2 linked regions of the Homo sapiens genome follow. The protein of the gene in region 2 purifies or fractionates together with the protein of the main gene of each other region. This does not show direct contact. Each region holds a gene or a part of one and is shown on either strand. Other genes may lie near its edges.

Region 1 (4,018 bases), on a different chromosome or scaffold from region 2:
GCTTTTTCTTAGTCTCCGAACTTCATTCACAAGTAGAAATGAATGAAGATAATAATTTGATAGGAAATGTGAAACTGTCACACACAGGTGGTTATGAGGCATAAGGAAGAGCCCCTGTTTAGCCTGCAGCACACACATCATTTCCCTTTCTATCCCTCCTGGCTTCATTGTACCCACGCACCACCAAAACTTACACAGCAATGCCTAAAAAGTAGCACAAAAGACTTAAAACCAGTGCCAATAGAGCAGAACATTTATCTTGAAACCTAAACTCTTGTCTAAACTTTTTTCCACTTGGTGTACTTTGCACAGACCTAACTTTTGGTATCAGGAAGGAGTCCTTCCCTAAATACCCAGTCGATGTCACAATCTACTCCTTGGTCATTTAAAACCCCATAATGTTACTTATTTATTCATTTGCAACCAGTGCAACACTTATTATCTGTTAGCTCTCAGCTTCAAACAGCTAGGTCAAAGTCAAGTAGAACTTTCACCACAAACTGCACATCCTGACCTATTTCAACAGAGGTCGTCATCCCTGTGAGGAATTCACTTAAATGTGAATTCATTAAATGTGTTGCCTTACCTAAACTGCAAGAGATAGAGGTTCACAACTTGTGATAGCAGACTTCAAAGTATTATGCAAAAACAAAAAACAAAAATAAAACATCATTGTCTAATTCATTAGAAAGTCGGGGAGTACAGGGGTATGGCAGTTAAAACTTACCCAAGGCCTCAACTGCAATGTTCTTCCACTCCAAGTGGGAATCTAGTGTTCATTTTATTCGGATATCACTTTGCAAAAAGGTAAAATCCAGGGCCAGGTTACCACACATTTTCTGAGAATAAAATGCTACATACTAATTATAGGAGATGCCTACTTCAGTTGTTTCTTTTCATATTTTTCAAGAGTACCAGAAGGCAAGATCTCCTGATATACCACTAAAAGGACAATTCATTTAATGAAATACATAAAAACAAAAACAAACAAAAGGCTGGGTGCCGTGGCTCACGTCTGTAATCCCAACACTTTGGGGAGGCCAAGGCTGGTGGATCACTTGAGGCCAGGAGTTCGAGATCAGACTGGCCAACATGGTGAAACCCCATTTCTACTAAAAATACAAAAATTAGGCCGGGCGCGGTGGCTCACGCCTCTAATCCTAGCATTTTGGGAGGCTAAGGCAGGTGGATCACTTGAGGTCAGGAGTTCAAGACCAGCCTGGCCAAGATGGTGAAACCCCATCTCTACTAAAAACACAAAAATTAGCCAGGCATGGTGGCACGTGCCTGTAGTCTCAGCTACTTTTAGGAGGCTGAGGCCTGAGAATTGCTTCAACCAAGGAGGTAGAGGATGCAGTGAACCAAGATCATGCCACTGCACTCCAGCTTGGGCGACAGCGTGACTCTGTCTCAAAAAAAAAAAAAAAAAAAAAAGAAATGTAAAAAGTTTAGCATCCACCTGCCTTACCTGTTACAGGAATGCTACATCTCTGTAAAGCGTCTTTGCTTCTCTAGCATCAAGACAGCTAGGATGGCTTGTCCACTGGTTTTCAAACTTCTGAGCAGCTCTTTAGAGGAAATGAAGTTTTTTGGGGAATAAGAGAAAATCCAAGAGAAGGTTCCTAGGTTCCACACATCCACATCAACCAGATCATTCTTTCATTTTTTTATACAGATGTGGGCTTTACAGTAAGACTTTCTATTTAAAAAAGAAAATGTAATCTGTCATGAGATTGAGTAAAATATATAAAAGTAAGAAAATATATTTTTAAAAAAGAAAATGATTTCGCACTATTACAAGGTTTAACTTTCAGTGTGCCTGCTAGGATAGAGAGCAGTGGTACTATAGTCTAGGGTTACCTGAAAGCACCTGACATCCTTTAAAAGGATCTGTGAGGTTGCTTTTTTGCAACAGCCAAAATCTGGAAATAGCCCAAATCTCCAACAGCAGATAAATGGATAAACAAATTGTATACTACTCAGCAATAAAAAAGGAATGAATTATGAATTATTAATGCACATACCAGATGAATCTCCAAGTAATTTTGAGGTCTAAATGCTTCCGTCTAAAAATGAAAGAAGTAATTTTGAGTGAAAGAAGACATACAGAGTATGTAATTTTGAGTGATTTTGAGTGAAAGAAGTAATTTTGAGTTCCAAGTGATTTTGAGTGAAAGAAGACATACAGAAAAAGCACTAATGGCATGATTTCATTTTTATATAATTTTAGAAAATGCAAGCTAATCTATAGTAATAAAATTTATCAGTGATTGACAAAGGACTAGCCAGAGGGATTATAATACAGCACATGGAAACTGTTGGGGGTGGTAAATATGTTATCTTGATTGGAGTGGTTTATAGCTGTATATGTCAAAGTTTACCAAATTGCACACTTATTTTTTTAAAGTAAAATTATGCATCAATTGTAAATTAAAAACTTAATTTAAAAAAGTCATTTGTCTTTCTCTTGTTCTCAGTACACAGTGTTGTTTTCCAGAAGTTAAATGACACCGTGTCATTTGGACACCGTGTCCATCACCTTAATAGCTAATGGAATGTGTGCTCATGTATCTTGTGTTTTAAATTTTTCTCCATTTTACTTTCCAATATGGTAAATGGTAAATATCTATATGATATATCTATCTTAAACCAGTGGTGTGCTAGGGCAGGATTGCACCAGCTCCCCAGAGCTGATTGTGCACATCTATTCCCAACTCTGTGTTTAGAGGTGTCATGCAGATAGCTCAAACTCAGCCATGGTTAAGTATTTACACCATGAAAAGCAGCAAAATCAGGGCTTTTTCTCAAATAGCTGGTTGTTCAACAATTACTGGCCCATGTAAGCAAAAACCCATTGAAGTCTTTGAGATACATATATATAGTGAGATAGGGTCTCTGGCTGAACTCAAACTTGTGGACTCAAGGGATCCTCCTACCTCAGCCTCCAATGTGGCTAGGACTACAGGCGCATGCTACTGCGCCTGGCTCAGTCCCTAATTTTTAACCGCAAAAGGATTCTCAAACCAAGCTGTCTAAGAACTACTAGGTTCAGTGATTCCTTATCCGTGGAGCTAGAAAGTGTTACTGGGGAAAAAGAAAAAAGAAAAATAATGGGACTTTCAGACACTCAACGCTATCAAAAAAATCTTTTGCAGACATTCATACTAAATTGTCTTCACTAAATGCCACCACTGCCATTCTCCCATGGTGCTCTTTGTTGGCCCAGTCCTTCCTCTAAGACCAGAAGGGCCTGGGGTTGATAAGTAGCTCCTTTTTAAATTTGAAGAGTGCAAAGGCTGGTAGGAGGGGTGGGGCTGCCAACTTCTCTGGCAAACACCAAAGATGTATCACCTTGCGTTCTATAGCTACTCATGAACCAAAAATGGAACTTCAAGGTACTGCTTGGAAAAGAATAGCACCAGACCACGTTTTCTAGATGATGGAGATTACAACTCCAGCAACGGGATAAGAGGTTCATGACACAAATATATTTATATTAGGTGAATCAATCACCAGGATACCAAGATCTGATACTTTCACAAACTGCTTGGAGGCAACTTAAGTATGGAAGAAGCTTCAGAACCAGCCCAGCTTTCTGCTCTCTGGCTCCAGGCTGCATCCTTTTTAACTATTTAATGTGGCGTGGAAAATGTCAGCATAATGAGGCTTTCTCATCTCAATAGAGAACCTAGGAAGGACAAGGCCGAATTAAAAAAAAAATCTTCATTAAAGAATTTAATAGGGAGTTGATTATGTTGTAGAATCATATCGTCCTATTCTGTGACACATTAGAAACATAAACTTTAGGGCTTTTTCATCTCCACAGCATAGAGGTCTGATCGCTTCTGTCTAAAAACGGGGATTTGCTGGCGTATTTCAGCCAGCTTCTTCAGGTCTGCAAAAAACAGGAAAGTGCACTATTAATAATTTGCAACTCCTCACTAACCAAGGGGATTTCTTCCCCTGACTGTATAAACCACCAGAGTCTTAGTAAGTAACTTAGTAACATAGGTCTTAT
Region 2 (4,018 bases):
CACTTCTGAGAGAAATTAATAAAGACCTAAGTAAATGGTGAGACATACCATGTGTATGTATTAGAAGGCATCTATTTTCTCTAAATCAAACTAGATTCCATGCAATTTCAATCAAAATCCAAACAGGTGTTTTGTAAAATTGAAGAGCAGGTTCTAAAATTTACACGTAAATGCAAGTAACATAGAATGAGCAAAACTTACACCACTTGGTTTCAAAATTTTCTATACAGCTGTGATAATTACAACAATTTTGTACTACTATAAGATTAGACCAATGGAATAGAGTCTAGATAAGAATTCAAATTATGCTCACAAAAAGACGTGTAACAAGAATATTTATGGTAGCATTATTCATTAGATCTCAAAACTGGAAATGATCCAAACGTGCAACAACAGTAGATAAATAAACAAACTGTGTTATATTTATATAATACCTACTTAGAATTTTAAAAATTGAACTATTGATACACACATATAGATGAATCCCAAAAATACCAATTTGAATAAAAGAAGCCAGACACAAGATTCCATTAAGTCACTCATTAAGTGACTCAATTTAACTGAAATTCAAGAACAAGCCAAACTATGCTACAGTAATAGATATGCAAACAATAATACATGAGATGGGAGTTGACTTGAAAGAAGCACAAGGAAACTTTCTGGGGTGATGAGAATATTCTCCAACTTAATTGAGGTAAATAGGTGCATAATTTTACCAAAATTCTCTGTACTATAATTTATCAAAATTAACTATGCACATACAATTTCTGTATTTCACTGTAAATTTTAAAGAAACATGTTAGAACTTATGTCCACAAGATGTCATTAAGAATGTGAAAATGCAAACCACAAAGAGAAGGTATTTGTATTCATATATCCAACAACAATAATAAACTGTATCCAAAAAACTACAGAACTCCAACAAATCAATAGAAAAAGATGACCAAATAAAAGAATGGGCAAATAATCTGAGTGGGCATTTCTTTTGAGGATATTTAAATGCTCAATAAGCACATAAAACAGTGTGCAACATCATTAGTATTAAAGAAATATTAATAAAAATCACAATAGGATACCATTACACATCTACTGGTTTGGCTAAAATTAAAAAGACAATGGAAAGTGTTCAGGAGGATGTGAGACAAATGGGAATCTTGAATACTGCTGGTGAGGCTGTCAATTGTTACAGCCTCTCTGGAAATATGCTTGGCATAGTGTACCAAAGTTAATAAAGCTTAACCTGCTTTTATACATTTCATTTTCACTCATTTCTATAAATACTGGCTTGGGTAAAGCCACATAATAGTAAGCATCACTTCCATGTAACAAGAGATTAGATACATTCTAGGACAAAACTGGCCAACTAACAGGCAGGTAAACCCTGAATATCATTTACATGCCATCAATGGAATGATTTTACAAGCCAAGTGATATCTTCAATATACCTTATAGGAATAACATAGTCAATGAAATATCCATAGTACAGAAAAACTTATGGGTTTACAAGTGGTGAAAGAAAAAAATCAGGAGAGAGAATAAATACCAGAAATGTGGACAATATCAGAAAGTATGTAGCAACATGTTAAAGCATGAAACCTTGATAAATTTTTAAAAAGGTTATTAAAATTCATTTTTATCCTGTACCAATCACATTAAAAAGAGTGAGAGTTAAGGAAGGCACGTATCTATCACATGCCTCCTTTTGACGTCACCGGAAAGGTAGCAAGCAAGGTAGATGACACCAGAATCTCTCTTATTAGCAGCACAAGAAACATTGCCATAATAGATGGAAGGTAGCAACTATCCTTAAAACCGCAAATGAAGCCATATTATGCTACAAAAGCAACGACAATAAATCTATGCCCAAACTGCTTGCCTAAACAGGGTAATGTGTTAGGAACACCAGTCAGAAGTCTTAAAACAGCAAAGTACACCATGAATGCCAGAGCATTCTAATAAAATACTATCAAACAGCATTCTGAAGTCTGGAAACCAGTTAAAAGCTACAGGCTTAATGATACCGCAGTGCTCCTCAATTTGAGACTCATTAGTTAAAACTGGCCCATAATCTGGTGCTCACTCAATCTATTGCAGGGTCAAGTCTTAGGACAAGTAATTGCAACCCCTTATGAACAACAATTCTTAGGTTATTTACCACAACAAAATACACTTTTTAAAACCTCACATAGGCATAAACTATTACACAATTAAAATATTAGTATTATATATAAATACCCACAATTACTCATTCCTATTACACTATTTTAAATAACAACAACAAGCAAATACTGCAAGATATTTATTCAATCTTCACTAAACATCTATTTGTCAGGTTCTATGCTAAGTGCTTAGAGATACAGTATCCCTCAGTGTCTGTAGGGATACAGAAGTAAGTATCATATAAACTGCTCTAGAAAATTAGTCCAGCATAAGGTAGGAAAAAAATCAGCTAATTATAATATACTAAGTATGATATCATCTCTCTTAACTGACCTCCACTGAATTGCCTCATAGTATTAACCAAAGCCATGTATTCCTATATCTAACGCCCATGGAAGACCAAATGGTCCAGATCAAGAGGCTTCATTCTTGCACACCCTCACACTTTTGCTCCCACAAACTGAGCCTTATGCTTTTTATGCTTATTAAGAGTCAACTATGTTTGTTCTCAAATTTGTTTATGCCAGTTTCATTTTCTATTGCAATTAAATAATTTAATATTTAAAGTAATGTGTTGGAAATCTTCTATGTTTTGCTACTAATAAGTGAAAACTTGAGCAAACCAATAAGTAAAAATGATGACTTGATCTAGAACAGTGGCTCCCAATCTACTGTATATGGGAACTCCTCTTTAAGTTCTAAAACTAAGCTGTAGAAAATGGCAGCCCCTAACCACATAAGGTTATGAAGCACGTAAATGTAGCCAGGGCAACTTGAGGAACCTAATTTTTACTACTATTTAATTTCAGTGTAATTATTTAGCATCAGAAGTAAGATGTGTCGTACATGTAAAACATGCCAATTTTCAAAAATTTAGTGTAAAAAATATAAAATATCACTTTAATAATTTTATACCGATTACATGTTGAATATTTTGAATATACTGGGTTAAATAAAATATATTATTAAAATCAATCTTACGTATTTCTTCCTTTTTATAATGTGGTATCAAGAACATTTAAATTTATATGTAGCTCATATTACATTTCTATTGGTGAGTATGGTCTAAAACGTTCGATGATCTGTTCAAATAGCTATTGGTTATAAAACTGTGTAACAAAAAGTTACCATGAAGCTGGTCCAATGATTTCATATTTTACTAAATCACAACAGCACCCACAAATAATGCTTAGTGCACATGGAGATTTTTGGATTTTCTGAAATAACTCTGGCCTAAAGTTTGAGAAATACTGCCTAGAATTCCTATCACAATTGGTAATGACATGAAATTCTTAAGATAAAAAATATTAATTCCTAGAATAAGGTTTTCAGTGGTCTTATGATTAATCAGACAATTGTATTTATATTTAGGTAGAAATGAACTTATCTTTCATCCCTGCAGAAATACCACTATGTTTCTTCCTTCCAACTTCAACTATCCTAAAAATCAGTAACAAGAAGCTTTTTTGACATTTTCAAAGACATGCAATTTATAGCACAAAAATAACCACTGGTGATTGGGTCTTTTAACTAGATTACCAAACTTTTAAACTCTATTAAAATTACATTTAAATAATAACTCCTTTGAGTCTTCAGTCTTACATTATCATTTTGTTCTCCCTTTTTCAATTCTATCAATTAAAGTAAGTAAATTCTTATTAGTACATATAAAAACGTCCTTGAAGTTCTGGTTTTATTTCTCCTTAATACTAAGTTAATGAAAATATAAAGCAAGGCATTTGCATAGTATGCCTGATAAGAAAAAAATCAAGAACAGGCCAGGTGCAGTGCCTCATGCCTGTAATTCCAGCACTTTTGGGAGGCCGCGGTGAGTGGATCACCTCAGGTCAACAGTTCC

Evidence for each region.
Region 1: the proteins of LYPLAL1 (region 2) and NIT2 fractionate together in Homo sapiens (co-fractionation; one large-scale study listed by BioGRID). This does not show direct contact.

What each region holds. Positions count from the first base shown.
Region 1 is NC_000003.12:100,355,054-100,359,071, reverse strand, and holds part of NIT2 (omega-amidase NIT2), read right to left. Parts: intron 3,896-4,018; coding exon 3,804-3,895; 3' UTR 1-3,803. UniProt on the Homo sapiens protein: Has omega-amidase activity. The role of omega-amidase is to remove potentially toxic intermediates by converting 2-oxoglutaramate and 2-oxosuccinamate to biologically useful 2-oxoglutarate and oxaloacetate, respectively.
Region 2 is NC_000001.11:219,180,204-219,184,221, reverse strand, and holds part of LYPLAL1 (lysophospholipase-like protein 1), read right to left. Parts: intron 1-4,018.